2 separate regions of the Homo sapiens genome follow, and region 1 is linked to region 2. Evidence: fine-mapped expression QTL. Tissue or cell type: nasal epithelium. Region 2 holds a variant in brackets; the other region holds the start of a gene. All regions are shown on one strand. Distances are between the middles of the regions.

Evidence for each region. PIP is the estimated chance that this variant, and not a neighbour inherited with it, causes the effect.
Region 1: it holds the start of MTFR1L, and the variant in region 2 is fine-mapped to the expression of MTFR1L in nasal epithelium (TOPMed, PIP 0.94).

The regions. Positions count from the first base shown.
Region 1 is chr1:25,816,120-25,825,352 of GRCh38, forward strand. It overlaps MTFR1L (mitochondrial fission regulator 1 like), which reads left to right and starts at 3,835. Exons shown (of 7, transcript NM_001099625.2): 1 at 3,835-3,910; 2 at 6,900-7,009; 3 at 7,525-7,629. The coding sequence starts at 6,986. It overlaps SELENON (selenoprotein N), which reads left to right. Exons shown (of 12, transcript NM_206926.2): 12 at 1-2,102. It overlaps LOC646471 (a long non-coding RNA gene), which reads right to left and starts at 7,487. Exons shown (of 1, transcript NR_024498.1): 1 at 3,835-7,487. RefSeq lists enhancers at 1,878-2,378, 4,021-4,160, 4,541-4,630 and silencers at 3,621-3,810, 4,261-4,430.
Region 2 is chr1:25,849,661-25,860,346 of GRCh38, forward strand. It overlaps AUNIP (aurora kinase A and ninein interacting protein), which reads right to left and starts at 9,797. Exons shown (of 3, transcript NM_024037.3): 1 at 9,620-9,797. The coding sequence starts at 9,697. RefSeq lists enhancers at 9,452-10,077, 9,975-10,204, 10,078-10,686 and silencers at 9,695-9,954, 10,555-10,614. The variant C/T (reference allele first, on the strand shown) is at 4,281.

The DNA.
Region 1 (9,233 bases), 34 kb before region 2:
CCTTCCCACAGGAAACATCAAGAAGCCCCAGCCAGGAGGGGCCAGGCTGCCAAGGCGGCTCCCCTGTTTATCTAGAGCCTTCGTTCCTGGCCATACCCCGGACTGCCCTCCTGTGCCTGATGTCCCCAGCTGGGGTCAGTCTCAACAGGAGCCAGTCTTCTGGAGCCTCTGGGCAGAACCCTCCATCAGAGTGGAAATCAGACGGGACCCCCTGCAGCTTCCCTGACCACGCCACTGACCAGCTATCTGGGGAAGTTTACTGTGAAGGGGTTTCTGCCTTTAGCAATGGGGTTCACTAAGGGGGTTCCCGAGGCCCAGGGCCAAGGCACTCCCACCGCCTACCTTAGCACAGGGTCTCTGCAGGACTGCGGGAGCCAGCGCTCCTGCCGCCCCTCTTGCCCCTCAGACCTTGCATCCACAGAAGCACAACCCAGCCAAACACCACAGCCTTCTCCAGAGCCGGCACTGTCCCGGCAACCAGGGGTGCCCCAGGCTAGCTCTTCTACCTCTGGGGCACCACGGACTCCCCTTGGCCACTCTTGGGACTTTGGTCCACGTCCTGAGCCACTGACCACGGCCAGTCTCTCTTTTTATATGTGCAGAAAAGTGTTTTTACACAAACTTTCTCATGGTTTGTAGGTATTTTTTTATAACCCCAGTGCTGAGGAGAAAGGAGGGGCAGTGGCTTCCCCGGCAGCAGCCCCATGATGGCTGAATCCGAAATCCTCGATGGGTCCAGCTTGATGTCTTTGCAGCTGCACCTATGGGAAGAAGTAGTCCTCTCTTCCTTCTCCTCTTCAGCTTTTTAAAAACAGTCCTCAGAGGATCCATGATCCCCAGCACTGTCCCATCCTCCACAAAGGCCCACAGGCATGCCTGTACTCTCTTTCATTAAGGTCTTGAAGTCAGGCTGCCCCCTCCCCAGCCCCCAGTTCTCTCCCCACCCCCTCACCCCACCCGGGGCTCACTCAGCCTGGCAGAGGAAGAAGGAAGGCAGACATCTCCGCAGCCACTCCTGGGCCTTTTATGTGCCGAGTTACCCCACTTGCCTTGGGCGTGTCCACTGAGCCTTCCCCAGCCAGTCTTGTTCTCAATTTTGTTTTGTTTTGTTTTGAGACGGAGTCTTGCTCTGTCACCCAGGCTGGAGTGCTATGGCTCGATCTTGGCTCACTGCAACCTCCACCTCCCAGGTTCAAGCAATTCTCTTGCCTCAGCCTCCCGAGTAGCTGGGATTACAGGTGCATGCCACCATGGCTGGCTAATTTTTGTATTTTTAGTAGAGATGGGGTTTCACCATATTGGTCAGGCTGATCTGGAACTTCTGACCTCAGGTGATCCACCTGCCTCAGCCTCCCAAAGTGCTGGGATTACAGGCGTGAGCAATCGTGCCCAGCCTTGTTCTTAATTTTGTATCATCCAGTCATCGCTAATATTACACGCACCTTCTCACTTAATCCTCACGACAAGCCTGTGAGGCAGATGCTCATTGTTCCCATCTTGATGAAACTTGAGTCTCAGGGAAGTGAAGTGACTTGCCCAGGGTCACTCAGGTAGAGTTGAGATTCAAACCCACATGTGGCTCCAAAGTCTGCATCTGGATTTGGGGGTGTTTTTTGGCATGGCACCCTCACCTCTCTCCCTGCCTGTTTTCCCCAAAGTGGAAAGGAAGGCCTTTCAAACCAGAGTGTCTCACTCCCCTCTGACCTCCAGACCAGATGGGGCATGAGCCAGCCAGCTCAGCCAGGCTCCCTGTGTCCTGGGAGGAAGTGTCCCCATCCCCCATGCCCCTTATGGGGAGGGAGGGCGTCTGATGCTCTCTCTCTGCCTCCCCCCCCATCCTGTCAGGCACAGGTGACGGGGGCAGCCCATGCGAGCCCTTCTCCTGCTGCTCTGGGAGGGCCAGTTCCACATTGAGCCAGCCTGGTCCCATGGAAAATGATGGCCTGGGCTTTCTGAGGCCTTATCTGATGCCTCTGCAGTTCATGTCCCCCACCAGGCCTCGAGGCTCAGGGTGGGAGAGGGCCCCGGGCTGCCCTGTCACTCCTCTAACACTTCCCTCCCCTGTCCCCAACATGCCCTGTAATAAAATTAGAGAAGACTAACTAGAGTGGTTCTAAGTGCTTTTCCTTTGAGTGGCATGTTGCTCAGCTCCGTCCTTCCATGGGGTGGCTCCCTCTTGGGGCAGAGTTGAGCTGGAATGCTTTCAGGTACTATCTTACCTATCGAAGGCTTGAGTGACTTGCCCAAAATAAGTTTTACGATAGAACAAGTGGTAGGACTTACTGTTTTGAGAATCTGGTGCTCTCTGTTGAGAGAGATCTGGGAGTTAAAATCATTGTCTTAAAAGCAGAGCCTGAGACAGGCATGAAGTGTTTTTTTGTTTGTTTGTTTTGTTTGTTTGGTGGGGCTGGGGGGGAGTGTACTTCCAGAAAAACCAGTAAAAGAAGGAAGGAAGCAGAAGAGGGAAAGGAAAAATGCTGAGCAGGAACAGTCTCAGCCCAGCCTTGGCCTGACCCACAGTGGAAGAGCTGTGGGGCATAAACCACACTGCAGAGCTGAACTGGCCTTTTGGACCTTTTATCAGTCATTGGCTTGGGAGGTGAAGGAAATTCCCAGGTAGGGAGCTCCGTTCTTCCTGCAAGGGGATCTGAGTGGGACACCAAATCAGCATCTACACCCAGGACAGACAGCCAGCGTGGACTTGCATGATCCGCCATCGCACAGGAGGGAAAGGTAATGATTAAAACACAATGTGCCATCCTGGGAAGAGGGCCAGACCTGGAAGTCAATCTTCAGCGTTTGAGATATGGTGGAGATCAGGGTGGACGACCTCTGAGGTCTCTAGCCAGGACCAGTCACATAATTTGCACAGCCCCGTGCAAAATGAAAACACAAGAACCCCTATTAGAAAATCATTTCAAGACGGCAACAGCAAAGTACTAAACCAAGTACAGGATTCTGAGCATGCGGCCCGTTGTGACTGCATGGGCTGTTCACCCATGAAACCAGCTCTGTCTCTGGCAGAGGGGACTGCAGGCTTTGGAACCAAGGAACTCCAGCCTGGGAGCCAGGCACAGCCCGAGGCTGTGCTGAAGGCAGAGAAGGAAATGTGACCCAGGAACTGCATGCCACAGACCAAGACAGTGAGGGCTGGAGCACAAAGAGGGAGTGGGTTAGTGAGCCTGGAAGGAATGTGGCTCTTCCCACAGAGCCTCTGGAGTCTTGTACATCAAGTACCCATCTAATAAGCAAACTCATTGAATATACCGTGTGTGTGTGTGTGTGTGTGTGTGTGTGTGTGTGTGTGTGTGAGAGAGAGAGAGAGAGGCTAAAATAGAAGAAAGCTGCAAAGTGCTGGAGGGCAGGAGTCAAGAGGAGAAAGAGGCCCATTCTGCGCATTCTTGCTGGAGAGAGGCTTTGCAAAGGGACCTGCCTGGGAACCAAGAACTGGGAAGGGGGCCAGGGTGAGGATTCTGAAGTTTGCCCTAGGGGTAGGAGCATATTTTAGGGGTCGAGCGACACACCCCTGGGCTTCCAGAAGTCGGATGGGGCTAAACGTGGAGAGCAACAAGCAGGGAGACGCGACGAATACCAGGCCGAGGGATCTCCAAACGCAGCCAACTCCTCCCGGGGACACAGACCCCGCGGGGGCACGGTCTCGATGGAGGGGAGTGTGCTCCGCGGTATCGGAGCCTACAGCCGCCAGCGCCTCGCCCACTCGGGGGCCGCGCTCCCCTCGCCACCGAGCTGGACCCGCCTCCTGAGGGTGCGCGGAGGTGCGCCTCGGTGCGCAGCTGCGGAGGATCGCTTCCGGGGGGCGGGTCAGCGGAAGTGAGGGCGGTTGAGGCTGGGCGGCCCAAGGTGGAAGGAGGGGCCGTGAGGTGAGAGAGTCCGGGAGCCCGAGCTTGAGGTGAGAAAGGTTCTAGGGAGGCGCGGAGGCGGGAGCGCGACCTTCCAGCCCGTTAGTAGACTGGGTCTACGTGCCGGGCGCTGTGCGGAGCCCGCAGCTCCTGTTCCCGCGCGAGTTCTCGCGGGAGCCGCAGCTGTCCGTCTCACTTGGCCCGGGGGAAACTGAGTCCCCGAAGGGTAGTTGCTCGTCGGAGTTCCCCAGCAAACAGTGACCAAGCCAGACCTCAGGCTTCTAGTTTCGGCTTCGCTGCTTGACGGGCCGGGCTGCCCCGCCGCGCATTCTGAGACCTGGCCGCGGCTCGGAGGCTTCCGCGCACTCGGGTCCGGGTCCTGTGGGTCCAAGGGCCGCTGGGCAGGCGGCGAGCACTTGGCCGACCTTGGCCCAGGTCGGGTCGTCTGCCGCGGGGGAGGGGCGACTCGCCCTGGCGGGTCCCCGCGGGGAGAGGGTCCGCGCGGGTCTCCGGCCACTGCTGCGCGCGGCAAAGTTTCACTGAGCGCGGCGGCCTCCGTGGGGGCCCCCGGGACCAGGGGTGCTGAGCAGGGCCCTGCGCTGGAGGAGCTCCCGTTCTCCTGAGGGGACGCCTGTCAGCAGACAGCAACTGCAGCCTCCGGAGGGCTGCGGGGCGCAGAGGTGACAAGACCCACCGGTGCTGCCGGCGAACCGGGGGAAGATCTTCTAGCCAGTGACACTTGGGGGCGGGGGTGACAGCTGAGTTGGTGTTCCCCTTCATTCGTTTAGTTCAGCGCGTTGAAGCGCTCACTGTGTCCTAGGCAGACACCGTGCTGTGCGCGGGGATCACAGTTATCTAGTTCCTCTCGCGAGGACTCCGAGGGACAGGCAGGGTGCTGCGGAGCGCACAGGAAAGGACCTGACCCTGTCGCAGGGAAGGAAGGTGATGCTTAAGCTGAGCTCTGAGGAATGATGAAGAATGAGCTCGGCGAAGGGGGTGCTGGTGTTTGATGCAGGGCTCAGAGGTGGGCCCAGTGTTGGGGGTTGAGGGCCAGTGTGGCTGGAGGGCAAGGGGGAGAGCAGGAGGGCTGGCTGCGAAGCGTGCAGGCCTTGGTGCTCAGTGAATGTGGTCTAGAGACGGCAGAGAAAGATGGGTTTGGGACTGATTGTGGATTTTATCCTGTGTTGGCTCTAGTAAGCCAGTTTTAAACGGATGAGCGATGTGATTAACTGTGTTTGGGAAGGATTCCTCTGGCTGTGTGTGAGGGTTAGGCCCGGCTGGGTCTTTGGAGGTAAGGTCGGAGAGGAAGTGGCAGTAAGCACCGTTAGTGCAATTTGTGGCCGACACGGACATTCAGCACAGAGCCTGGCACACAGAGGGACTCTGATAATAAAGGCTTGAACTGAGCCGAGAAGATGGAGCCCACGCAGGAGGTGGCAGGACCTGGACCAGGCTTTGGGTGCTTTGCACTGGCATGACCACTGAGTGACCTTAGACAAGTGCCTTCCCCTGTCCAACTTCCTTTCCCCATGTGTATCGTGAAGTGAATGACACCTCGTCTCCCAAGGGTAGAAGAGGGGACCCTCCACAGGAGGTCTCCAGAAAGAGCTGCTTTGTCAGTCTAGTCTATCTCCCATTCAGAGCCTGTCCAGGGCTCCCCAGTGACCCGGACCTCATGACTTGCCCCCTACTTTTGTAGCTTTATCATGCTCTGCTCCTCTTTCCATGTCCTTCACCTTCTTGTGCTGGACCTGTGCTCTTGCTGTTTTGTCTTCATTTCCTACTCCCTCGCAACTTACTACAGGGCACTAGGGCCAGAGCTCTGACCTCATCTGGCCACCTGCCTAATGCTACTCAGCCTTTGCTAGAAGTATGTATTCATGTCCTATCACTCTGCTGGACAGCGAGTTCCTTGAGAGCATGACTGTGTCTTACTCCTTCCATAGCCCCTACGGTGCCCAGCACAAGGCCTGGCACAAGTGGGTACTGTTGGTGTTTGATGAACAAGTGAATGAACGAGCACACTGATTGCATCTGCTCACCATGCAAGGACTGCTGTGAAGAGCAGTCAGATGTCACCTCACCCATCTGTGTCATGTTTTAACAGTTCATTAAGCACTCAACCCCATTTCACTCATTGACCCTTAAGGTAGCCTCCAGTGGCAGCTTTTCCTGTCTCCTTTTTCCAGATGGAAAAACCAACATTCAGAAAAGTTAAATAACTTGCCTGTAGCTACAAAGCCAGAAGGTGGCTGAGCCAGGATAAACTTTTTTGGCTCTTTTTCTCTGTAGCTCATGAGACTGAGATTGGCATGAGCTGGTGTTCGTTCTCCTATTTTCTCTGATCTCTCCCTTTGCAAGGGCCCAGCAGTGCTTTTACATCTCATCTTCAAGAATGAATCCTGGGCTTGGATAGTACTTATAATTTGGCTAGATGAGCTTTGTAGCTACCAAGGATTCTATTTGCATCTTTAGAAGTTTTGCCTCAAGAAACCTGAGAGCCCAGGAAGGCTCTTGGGTTGGCCAAGCTCACTAGGCAAATCTTTTTTTTTTTTTTTTTTTTTTGAGACGGAGTCTCGCTCTGTCACCCAGGTTGGAGTGCAGTGGCGTGATCTCGGCTCACTGCAAGCTCTGCCTCCTGGGTTCACGCCATTCTCCTGCCTCAGCCTCCCAAGTAGCTGGTACTACAGGTGCCCGCCACCACACCTGGCTAATTTTTTGTATTTTTAGTAGAGACAGGGCTTCACTGTGTTAGCCAGGATGGTCTCGCTCTCCTGACCTCGTGATCCGCCCACCTCGGCCTCCCAAAGTGCTGGGATTACAGATGTGAGCCACTGCGCCTGGCCGCAGATCTTTAACAGAACCTTTAAGAGTCTGGACTTAGAGCTAAGTGTTGGGTGAGGGCAGCCTCTTGGGCTGGTTTTCTCCCCTGTGAAGTCATGGCTCTGCAGGGCCTGGTTTTTTGGGGCTTGTGTGGTGACCATTAAATCCCCACTGTGGGGGGTTGTTTCACAAGAGGGAAATCTGGTGCTCCTCCAGATGGCCTGATATGAAGGAGTCACGCCTCCCGCCTCCCGGAGCTGCCCAGTGGCTGCCTTGTCCTTCAAGTGCAGGAGCTGGTTCAAATGTCAGGAATGGAAGCCACTGTGGTAAGGGGCATTCCCAGGGCAGGGGTATGGTGGGGAAGGTTGGGTGCTGGGCCTGCTGAAGTACTGTAAAAGGTTCTGAGACTCTCCAGTTGAGCACTCCTTTCTCCAGAGGCCTGGAATTGGAGCAAGGCCACCGTTTCACTCCCTCCCCCTAAGAAGAACCAACTATGATCCTGGGGCACTTCAGGAGTCAGTGTATGTCTGCCTTTCTGTACAGAGGACGGGAAGGAAAGCCTGGATAATCTCTACACTCAGCTACTTCCTCTCCCCTTCCCTGACCCTCCCAACATTGACTGCCTTAGCAGCAGCAGGTATTCCCTTGGGTGGCTGGCCAGGGTGTAGGCTGGCAACTGGGGAACCTGCCCTCACTATAATTGAGAGTTGACTTGCCCCTAGAGAGTGCCCTGTCCCTAGGTTTGTGGAATTCAGTCTCCACAAACCTAGAGAGGAGAGGACAAGGACAGTAGTTGGATTCATTCTCTGGGGTTGTAGCTGTCTCCGTCTCTTTGCTCCAGACCATCCCAATCTGGCAAAACAAGCCACATGGGGCTGCTCGAAGTGTAGTAAGAAGAATTGGGACCAACCTACCCTTGAAGCCGTGTGCCCGGGCGTCCTTTGAGGTGAGTATGTTGGAAGGGCAGGAGAGTAGAGGCTCAGACAGTGCTGCTTCTGTGCCCCAAACCCCTTGGTACTGCCCAAGTAGGTTGTTTCCTGGTCACTTTTCATTCTGTTATGAAATATTTGTTAAATGCTTATAAGATATCCTGGTCACTGTGTCCTCCTGAGTGCATACAAACCTGTGACCACAAGGAACCTGACAGGTCCCCCACATGGGACACTGACTATTGTGATTTTTGAGTTGAACTCTGCTTTTCTTCACCAGCCCTAAGAATTGACCATGTAGCCAGTATTTTTATTTTATTATTTTTTGAGATGAGGTCTCCCTATGTTGCCCAGGCTAGGTCTTAAACTCCTGGGCTCAAGCAGTCCTCCTGCCTCAGCCTCCTATGTAGCTGGGATTACAGGCACAAGCCACCATGCCCAGCTCCACTATTTTTAGTGTTTCTCTGAGGCCATAATTCCTCAGCCTTCTCTTTTTGGCCAATCTGGGCATCCTTTACTGGGGTGCTTTGGTCTTACCTCTGTGTCTAGGGATCCTTTAGCACCCACTCAGCAGCAGAGATTCCTACCTGGCCCAGGTCTCTTGAGACCCCTTCTGTGGTAGAAAGCTAAGTAGCATTTATTAGTCCCAGCTGCCTCCCTCTAGGAACTAAATGGTTAAGCACCAGCCCCAAACTATATGGTTCAGATGTGTGCATTTGGAGAGCTGGGATACAAAAGAAATACTTGTGCTTTCTACCCACACAGAGGAGATAGAAATATGTGCATGAAAGGATGTGGGCCCAGGTAGAAACAGAAATGAAGGAGCCAAATCTGTATAAAAGATGCTAAGAAGCAGAGTCTGTAGGAACTGGATCTGGAATTAGAAGAGGTGTCAGGGTTGGTATTAGGGTCAGGAATGGAGTTGGAAGTGTCGCAGGGGTAGGGGGCAGGAAAAGCTGTCCCAGTATTCAGATTGCCAGCTATCCAGAATTGTCTAAAGATCCTGGGCAGGAACTGGTCCTAACTTGCCTCAGAAGCATCAGAAAAAAAAAAGGGAGACAGCTAGGGAGTGTGGCTCACTGCATAGAGGCCGTCCCCACACTTGGCTATACCCTCTTCAGTTCTTTGGCCAGATGCTGGGCAGAGACAATCAAGGGCACAGGCTCTCACAGAGCAGGAATGTATGTGAGCAGTATTGGTAATACTAGATAACATTTACTGAGCACATACTATGTGTCAGGCACTGTGCTGTACTTTATATTTGTTTACTCATTTAATTGCCAAGAGCAAAGGAGCATTCAGGGCTAATCAGGAAAACAAATGGAGGCTTCCCCCAAATGCCCTATTTTAGCACTAGTTCCTGGGTCACTGGAAGTTCTTCTCTGTGTGACCTTGGAGTATCACTTAACTCCTGTGAGTCCCAGGTTTCCTATCTAAATGCAGGAGCGATCAATCCTGGATCCATCTACCATACCAAATAATTTGTAGCAGAAACAGTTGAATCTTACTTGTGTGTAAATATGCATTTATTATTATTATTAAATTACCTTAAATATTATTTAAGGGACTCTTACCAATTTATTTTGAAAATTTAAGCATATGAAAATATTAAAATTATGAA
Region 2 (10,686 bases):
TCTTATTCTGTCACCTAGGCTGGAGTGCAGCTACGCAATCTTGGCTCACTGCAACCTCTGCCTCCTGGGTTCAAGCAATTCTTCTGCCTCAGTCTCCTGAGCAGCTGGAATTACAGGTGCCTGCCACCATGCCTGGCTAAGTTTTGTATTTTTTTAGTAGAGACGGGGTTTCATCATATTGGCCAGGCTGGTCTTGAACTCCTGACCTCAAGTGATCTGCCCCATCTCAGCCTCCCAAAGTGCTGGGATTACAGGCGTGAGCCACTGCACTCAACCCTAGATATACCATTTTGTTTACCAGTTGATGTTCATCAGTTGATGACTACTTGGATTGTTTCCACTTTTTGGCTATTATGAGAAACGCTGCTAAGAACATTTGTGTGCAAGTTTTTGTGCAGACATACGTTTTCCTATCTCTCGGGGGTACATACTTAAATGGGCAAATTTTATGGTATATGAATCATATCTCAATAAAGCTATGATCACATCAGCACTCTGGGTGTGATCATAGCACTCCAGTCTGGGTAACAAATTGAGACCCTGATTCTAAAAACAACAACAACAACAACAACAAAACAACTGACCATAAATACAAGGGTTTACTTCTGGACTTTCAATTCCTTTGATCTATAATGTGTCTACCTTTATGACAGTATCAAACCATCTTAAGTACTGTAACTGTATAGTAATTTTGAAATCAGTACATGTGATTCCTCCAACTTTGTTACTCTTCAAGCTTGTTTTGGCTTTTCTAGATCCCTCGGATGTCATGAATTTCTGGATCAGACTGTCAGTATCTGCAAAAAGGACAACTGAGATGTTGATAAGGACTGCACTGATTCTGTAGATCAATTGGGGCATATTCCTATCTTAAGTCTTCTGATCAATGAACATGTAATGTCTTTCCATTATTTACATTTTTAATTTCTTTCAATGAGTTTTATAGTTTCCAGTGTATGTCTTGCACTGTTTTGTTAAATTTATGCCTAAGTATTTTATTCTATTTGATTCTATTGTAAATGAAATTATTTCCTTAGTTTCATTTTTTGGATAAAATCCTACCATACGGAAGTACAATTGATTTTTGTATCCTGTCACACTGCTGAACTCATTTTTTCTAATTTTTTTAAGTGGATTCCTTAGGATTTTCTACACATAAGATCATATTTTCTGCAAACAGATAATTTTACTTCTTCCTTTTTAATCTGGGTATCTTTTATTTCTTTTTCTTGCTAAATTTCCCTGCATAAAATCTCTAGTGCAATGGTAAACAGAGTGGCAAGATCTTTGTCTTGTTGCTGATTTAGGAGTGGAAACATTCAGTCTTCTTCCATTAAGTATGATGTTAACTGGGTTTTCATAGATGCCCTTTGTGAGGCTGAGAAAATTCCCTTTTATTCCTGGTCTGTTGAGTGTTTTAATCACAAAATGATGTCAGTCAAAATGCTTTTTCTGTGTCTATTGACATGATTATGTGGTTTTTGTCTTTTATGCTATTAGTATGGTATATTAATTGGTTTTCAAATTTAAACCAACCTTGCATTCCTAAGATAAATTCCTCTTGGTCATGATTTATAATCCTTTTTATGTGTTGCTAAATTTGTTTTGCTTGTATTTTGTTGAGTATTTTTGTATCTGTATTCATAAAGGATACCAGACCATAATTTCCTTTTCTTGTGATATCTTGGTCTAGTTTTAGTATCAGAGTAATACTGGCCTCAAAATGAGTTGGAAAGTGTTCCCTCCTCTTCTATTCTATTTTTTTGAGAGAGTCTGAAGGATTGGTATAATTCTTTAAATGTTTGGTAGAATTCACCAGAGAAACTATCTGGACCTGGACTTTTCTTTGCAGGAAGTTTTAAAATTACTAATTCAATCTCTTCGTTATAGGTCTATAGACCAAAGGAATTGAACTGAAAGTCCAGAAGTAAACCCTTACATTTACAGTCAGTTGATTTTTATCTATTTCTTCTTGAGGCAAGTTTGGTAGTCTGTGACTTCCTAGGAATTTGTCCATTTCATCTAAGTTATCTAAATGTGTTAGCATACAGTTGTTTATAGTATTCTAATTATTTTTATCTCTTTATTTTCTTTTTTAGACAGTCTCACTCTGTCGCCCAGGCTGGAATGCAGTGGCACAATCTCGGCTCACTGCAACCTGTCTCCCGGGTTCAAGTGATTCTCCTGCCTCAGCCTCCCGAGTAGCTGGGACTACAGGCACACACCAACATAACTGGCTAATTTCTGTATTTTTAGTAGAGATAGGGTTTTTTCAGCCACCTCACCTGGCCTCTTGCTGACTGACTGATTGAGACAGGGTGTCACTCTCTTACCCAGGCTGGAGTGCAGTGGCTCAATCACCGCTCAGTGCAGCCTCAACCTCCCTGGGTTCAGTGATCCTTACACCTCAGCCTCCTGAGTAGCTGGAACTACAGGCATGTACCACCACATCAGGCTAATTTTTGTATTTTTTGGTAGAGATAGGGTCTCCCTATGTTGCCCAGGCTGGTCTTGAACTCCTGGGTTCAGGGGATCCTCCCACCTCAGCCTCCTAAAATGCTGGGATTATAGGTGTGAGCCACTGTGCTCTCTTTTATTCTTGATCAGTCTAGCTAAAGGTGTGTTGAGTTTGTTGATCTTTGCAAAGAACCAACTTTTGATGTTGATTGTTTTTCTTTACTATTTATTTTCACTCTAAATTGTATTATTTCCTTCCTTCTGGTCACTATGGGTTTAGATTGCTCTTCTTTTTCTAGTTTCTTAAGGTAGAAGATTAGATTATTTAAGGTTTTTTTTTTTGTTGTTTTTTTTTTTGAGACAGGAGTTTCACTCTTGTTGCCCAGGCTGGAGTTCACTGCAACCTCCGCCTCCTGGGTTCAAGCAGTTCTCCTGCCTCAGCCTCCTGAGTAGCTGGGATTACAGGCGCCTGCCACCACGCACAGCTAATTTTGGTATTTTTAGTAGAGACAGGGTTTCGCCGTGTTGGCCAGGTTGGTCTTAAACTCCTGACCTCGGGTGATCCACCCACCTCAGCCTCCCAAACTGTTGGGATTACAGGTGTGAGCCACTGCGCCTGGCCGAGATTCTTTTTAATAAAAGCATTTACAGCTATACATATCCCTCTAAGCATAGTGTTAGTTGCATCCCATAAATCTTGGTGCATTATATTTTTGTTTTCATTTATCTCAAAGTACTTTCTATTATAATTTTCCTTTTGATTTCTTCTTTGACTCTTGGTTATTTAGAAATGTGCTGTTTAATTTCAACCTATTTGTGGATTTTCTACTTTTTCTTCTGTTACTGATTTCTACTTTCATTCCATTATGGAGAATATACTTTGTATGATTTCCATCTTTCTAAATTTATTGAGATTTGTTTTGTGACCTAGTATTTGTGGAGAATGTTCCATGTGTCATGGAGAAGACTATGTATTCTGCTGTTGTTGGGTAGACTGTTCTATATTTTTGTCTGTTAGGTCTACCTGGTTTATAGTATTGTTCAAATCTTTTTTCCTTGTTGATATCCATGATTGAAAGTGGGTATTAAAGTTTCCAAATATTGTTCACAAAATCTTTCTTAATATTAGCTGTATTAGTGTTGTATTGCTTTGTAACGAATTACCACAAAACTTAGAAGCTTAAAACAATAAACATTCGGCCGGCGTGGTGGCTCATGCCTGTAATCCCAGCACTTTGGGTGGCGGAGGCAGGTGGATCACCTGAGGTCAGGAGTTTGAGAACAGCCTGACCAACATGGTGAAATCTCATCTCTACTAAAAATACCAAAATTAGCCAGGTGTGGTGGTGGGCGCCTGTAATTCCAGCTACTAAGGAGGGTGAGGCAGGAGAATCGTCTGAACCCATGAGTCAAAGTTTGCAGCGAGCTGAGATCGTGCCACTGCACCCCAGCCTGTGTGACAGAGCAACTCTGTCTCAAAAAACAAACAAACAAACAAAAACAAAACAAAAAACATTAATCTCACACAGCTTCTCAGGGTGGTTAGCTTGGTGGTTCTGGCTCAGGGTCTCTCATGAGGTTGCATTCATGATGTTGGCTCAGGCTACAATCATCTGAAGCCTTAACTGGGGCTGAAAGGATCCACTTCCAAGATAGCTCACTAACATGGCTGTTAACAGGCTTCATGTAGCAACATGGAAGCTAGCTTTTCCCAGAGTGAGCAATCAAAAGAGGTCACAAAGCCATTTATGACCCAATCTGAAAAAGTCACACACCATCAGTTCCCGCAATATTCTATTCATTAGAAGCAAGTTACGGCCCGG[C/T]GCAGTGGCTCACGCCTGTAATCCCTTTGGGAGGCCAAGGCAGGTAGATCACCTGAGGTCAGGAGTTTGAGACCAGTCTAGCCAACATGGTAAAACCCCGTCTGTACTAAAAATACAAAAATTAGCCGGGCATAGTGGTGCACGCCTGTAATCCCAGTTACTCATAAGGTGAGGCAGGAGAACTGCTTCAACCCAGCAGGTGGAGGTTGCAGTGAGCCAAGATCATGCCACTGCACTCCAGTCTAGGCAACAGAGTAAGACTCCATCTCAAAAAAATAAACAAACAAATAAATAAATAAATAGCAAGTTACCAAGTCCAATCCAAACATAAAGGCAGGAGAATGAAGCTCCACCTCTTGAAGGGAAGAGTGTGGACATATTTTGAAACCATCACAGTCCACCTTCTGGCCCAAATTACTTACATTCTTCCCATATGCAAAATATACTCCCTCCCTCCCAAAACTCTACAAAAATCTCATCTCTTTATAGCATTAGCTTAATATCAAGGATACTAGCATCTAAAACAGGTACATGTGAAGTCCAAAAATGTAGTTTAAATACAGTTCCTTTAGATCTGCAGGCCTGTGAACTAAAGACAAATTATCTTCCCTCATACATCTAACATACAATTTGGAACGGGCATAACTGTTACAGACATTATGTTCAAAAAGGGGGAGATAAGAGGTATAAGTGGGTCACCAGTCTGAAATCCAGCCAGGCATTTATTATCTCACAACTTCTGTGCATGAAGAATTTGGGTTAAGCCTAGATGGGTGGGTCTGTCTCACAGTCTAGTGAGGTTGCATTCAAAATATCAACTAGAGGTGCGGTATCCAATTTCAAGATGACTCCCTCACTCACACAACTGTTGGCAAAAGGCCTCAGCTCCTCACTGCATGAACCTCTCCACAGAGCTGCTTGAGTGTCCTCACAACATGACAGCTGGCTTCTCCCAAAGAGACAATGAAGCTAAAGCTGCAATGTCATTTATGACCTAGATTCAGAATTCTTTCTTTTTTTTTTTTTTTTTTTTTGAGATGGGGTCTCACTCTATCACCCAGTCTGGAGTGCAGTGGCGCAACCTTGGCTCACTGCAACCTCCACCTTCTGGCTTCAAGCAATTCTCCTGCCTCAGCCTCCTGAGTAGCTGGGATTATAGGCACCCGTCACCAAGCCTGGCTAATTTTAGTATTTTCAGTAGAGATGGGGTTTCACCATGTTGGCCAGGCTTAGACTCAGAATTCTAACACTATAACCTACCACATTCTATTCATTGGAGTCACTAAATACTGTCTGTGCTCAAGGAAAGGGGAATTAAGTTCTTTTAGAAGGAAAAGTACTGAAGAATTTGTGGACGTACATTAAAACTGCCACACTCCTCCGCCCATGATAAACTTTTTTTATTTTTTGTGGAGTTGGGGTCTCATTATATTGCCCAGGCTGGTCCCAAATTCCTGGCTTCCCAAAGTGCTGAGCTTCCCAAAGTGCTGAGATTACAGGCACGAGCCACAGTCCTGTTTAATTTTTTTTAAACAAACATATATTATTTTCATAATATAAAAACAAAATGAAAGCAAATCTAGTATACATACAAGGCCTAAGTAACGAGGCCAAATGGGTAGTTCAAATTAGGAGAGAAGCAAACTCACTCCAAACATAGACTACTATTGTCTACTGGCCAGACTACAAACTACTCATTCTCTCAAAAATAGCAAACCATTCTGTTTAGAGATCAAGGGGGAAGAGGCATGTTTTCAAAAACACAGACACTAGGTACTGCCCATCCATCCCTGACATTAAAACTCAAAGGACTGTATGCCTATTTGATAGCCACTCTAGGAAGAGGCACCTTGTGAAAGGGAATCTTTAGTACTCTTCTCTGGGTTGGAAGTCAGAGTAATAGTTAATAGTCAGGAACCAAAGATTTTAACAAGTATCTTTGGGAATCAAGTAACAAGAAGGAGAAATGGTGTTAGTGAGTATGGTCATAAGGTCCAGGCCTCTAGAAATCAGAATAAGTTAAGGGCCTAGAGATCCTGGAGGATTCTATAACTGTCATGTACTACATCAACAAGACAAATGTTTTCACCATAACATTGCCAGGGAAAAAGGCAGGATTTGGGGGTATAAGAATTATAGACAGACCAGGCACGGTGGCTCATGCCTGTAATCCCAGCACTTTGGGAGGCTGAGGCAGGTGGATCACTTGAGGCCAGGAGTTCGAGACCAGCCTGGTCAACATGGTGAAACCCTGTCTCTACTAAAAATACAAAAATTAGCCAGGTATGGTGGCACACGCCTGTAATCCCAGCTACTCATGAGGCTGAGGCAGAGAATCGCTTGAATCTGGGAGGCAGAGGCTGCAGTGACCCGAGATCATGCCACTACACTCCAGCCTGGGTGACAGAGCAAGACTCCATCTCAAAAAAAAAAAAACAAAACAAACAATAAAACAAGATTAGGCTGGGCGTAGTGGCTCACGCCTGTAATCCCAGGAGGCCGAGGCAGGTGGATCACCTCAGGTTGGGAGTTCAAGACCAGCCTAACCAACATGGAGAAACCCCGTCTCTACTAAAAATACAAATTCACCTGGGCAAGGTGGTGCATGCCTGTAATCCCAGCTACTCTGGAGACTGAGGCAGGGGAACTGCTTGAACCCAGGAGGTGGAGGTTGCAGTGAGCTGAGATCGCACCACTGCACTCCAGCCCGGGCAACAAGAGCAAGACTCCATTTCGGAAAACAACAACAACAACAACAACAACAAAACAGAATTATAGACAGAGAGACAAATATTGGCTCTCCTCTTCCCTGTGGAATATTCCCTTTCTCGCTCTCCTGAACTCTTCCTAATTCTATTTCTGTTCTCTTTCTAAATTAAACTGGTGGCTGGGTGCAGTGGCTCACACCTGTAATCCCAGCACTTTGAGAAGCCACGGTGGGCAGATCACTTGAGCTCAGGAGTTCAAGACCAGCCTAGGTAACACAGCGAAACCCCGTCTCTACAAAAAAAAAAAATACAAAAAATGAGCTGGGCTTTGTGGCACTATGCCTGTAGTCCCAGCTACTCGGGAGGATGAGGCAAGAGGATCACCTGGAGCCCGGGGGCGTTGAGGCTGTAGGTAGTCGTGATTACGCCACCGCACTCTAGCCTGGGTGACGGACTGAGGCCTGTCTCCAAAATTAACTAACAAATCAAAGTGGTATACAAGTTTCCCACGCATCCCATGTCATTCAAGAATGTATTCAAAGGGTACAAATGGCTTATTCCTAATTCAAGGAGTAATAAATAGCTATTGCACATTTTGATTTTTTTTTTTTTTTTTTTGAGACTGAGTCTTCTGTCACCCAGGCTGGAGTGCAGTGGCACGATCTCGGCTCACTGCAACCTCCACCTCCTGGGTTCAAGCAATTCTCCTGTCTCAGCCTCCCGAGTAGCTGGGATTACAGGTACCTGCCACCACGCCCAGCAAATTTTTGTATTTTTTATAGGAGAGACGGGGTTTCACCATGTTGGCCAGGCCGGTCTCGAACTCCTGACCTCAGGTGATCCGCCCGCCTCGGCCTCCCAAAGTACTAGGATTACAGGCGTGAGCCACCGCACCCGGCCATTTTGATAATTTTTGAAAAAATAAAACAATCGGCCAGGCACGGTAGCTCAAGCCTGTAATCTCAGCACTTTGGGAGGCCGAGACGGGCGGATCACTTGAGGTCAGGAGTTCAAGACCAGCCTGGCCAACATAGTGAAACCCTGTCTCTACTAAAAATACAAAAATCAGCCGAGCGTAGTGGCGGGCGCCTGTAGTCCCAGCTACTCGGGAGGCTGAGGCGGAAGAATCGCTTGAACCCGGGAGGCAGAGGTTGCAGTGAGCTTAGATCGCGCCACTGCACTCCAGCACGAGCAACAAGAGTGAAACTCCATCTCAAAAATAACAATAATAATAATATGCCGGGCGCAGTGGCTCACGCCTGTAATCCCAGCACTCTGGGAGGCTGAGGCGGGCAGATCACGAGGTCAGGAGAGCGAGACCATCCTGGCTAACACGGTGAAAACCTGTCTCTACTAAAAATACAAAAAATTAGCCGGGCGTGGTGGTGGCCGCCTGTAGTCCCAGCTACTCAGGAGGCTGAGGCAGGAGAATGGCGTGAACCCCGGAGGTGGGGCTTGCAGGGAACTGAGATTGTGTCACTGCACTCCAGCCTGGGCGACAGAGCAAGACTCCATCTCAAAAAATAATAATAATAAATAATAATAATAAAATGATCAAATTTCTTATCTATAAAACCAGGATAATGACAAAATCTACTTTACTGAATTTTGGTGAGTACCTGCCATTGATAAAGTGTATAAAGTCTCGGCAAAATGCCTGACACATAGAAAGCACTCAATAAAGGTTAGGTATTGTTGTTATTATTTATACACCTCTTTTCTTCCCTATAAGACTGTGAGCAACCTGAGAGCAAGAATCTTGCCCCTAGTGTCTGTTTTGAGCCTGTTTTCCGTATGTAAAATGGGTATCATTACACTATCTACCATATAGAATTGTACCAAACAAGGTAACATACCTAAAACACTTAGCACCAGCATAAAATGCTCAATAAACATGAATGATTATTATGTCGCACTTTTGTTTCTTTACAGTGACTGAAGAGCATCTTGCCTAGGTGACAGACCTGAATGTGATTTCCAGCTCCTTCTAGTTAGGCGGGCCTAGGTTAGTTACTGAACCTCAGTTTCCTCATTCCCAGCAAGAATGACGACACATATAACGCATATTCAGTATCTAATGCAGTATCCGGCACCCAGTGACTGCTCAGTACATAGGAGGCCAGCTCCCCTTCCCATAGCTTCTACTTTTCCCCTCAAAGTTACCGGTTCTGGGCAGGTAGTTGGCCTGCAACTTGGCAAATTGGGTGGAAACAGACCCCGGGGTGAGAATTTCCCCAATTTGCATTCGCATCCATCTCCCAATGCTCCAGCCTCTACTAGGACGTCTCGCAGGGACTGTGGCCTCCTAGGGAGCCTGGTCAGTTCAACTGCTCCGAGCGAACTTTCCCTCCGCCTCTCCCACACCTGAACCTTCGCCGCCCCTCCCTGCGCACCGCTCCTCCAGACCCCCCAACAGCACGCTCTTTCCTTCCGTCCCTCCCATCCTCCCCAAGCCCCGTTTTTCAACCTTCTTCAGACCACAATCCCTCTCGCCTGTGAATCCCCAACGCTGTTCCCTTCTCTGTCCCCGACTTCGCTTTCATCATCTCCAGGTGTCCCCCAAACTCCTCCCGTCTTACGCCTCCAGGCCCTACCTGGTTCCCAACGCCCTCTCATCCCCCAGCGTCCCACCTGCACTTTCCGCCTCTTCAGCGCCGCCGCGTCCAGCCACACGCCGCAGGCCTCCTCCTCGGGGCCTGTCCGCCTCATGGCCGCTGAGGAGACGAAGCCGGCAGGACGCCGGCGCAGGCTCCCGGCGCCTCAGGGAACGCCAGAACCGCGGCCGCCGACGTTCGGATCTCGCGCCAACGCTGGGGGCGGGGCTACGTCGCGACCGCCCCGGGCGCCAGCCCCGCCCCGGCAAGGCCCTGGCCCCCTTCGCTGTGCCCCGCCCACGCACTAACTTTCGCGGCCGGTCCCTTGAGTGCGTGCGGCATATTTCCCTGCGCGGAGGAGTGCGTGTTCTTTCTGATCCGCTCTTTCAAGAGCGGATTCGGAAGCTGCTGTGTGAACGGTTCTCGACAGCCTCAGAAATGTACATTTTCTTTTTGCTGTATTGAAAATTTCTTACAGTATTTCCCGGGCTTAGGAATTTGTTCGTGTCATCGCTGAATCTTCGCGATCACCCCCAGAAGGAAGTGGCTGAGCCGAGATCAGGCCCGTCGACTCCAGACCAGGGGTCCTCGACCTAAGTGGTTACCAGACACTCGAGTGTGCGAACAACTTTGGTAATTTTTTTTTTTTAATGTAAGCGTAACTACGAAGCCACATGGGAGAGGATTTTGAAGAGGTTAAAATTTGGGGTCAGGAACTAGATTTCAGTCCTGCTTTCACCGTTTACTGTGCCTTGGATTTTAAAGAGGATCAAATGAGGTTGTGAAAGTACTTTGTGAATTCAGAAAACCCCTTGGAAATGCAAAAATGTTGGCACCCCCACCCATCCTTCCGTCCCTAACCACAATCTCCATAGATGGAATATATGTACATTATACGTAATGTTTACATATTGTATATGTAAAAAAAATTTTTTTTTGAGACGGAGTCTCACTGTCGCCCAGGCTGGAGTGCAGTGGCGCTATCTCGGCTCACTGCAGCCCCGCCTCCTGGGTTCAAGCGGTTCTTCTGTCTCAGCCTCCCTAGTAGCTGGAAGTACAGGCGCACGCCACCACACCCAGCTAATTTTTGTATTTTTAGTAGAG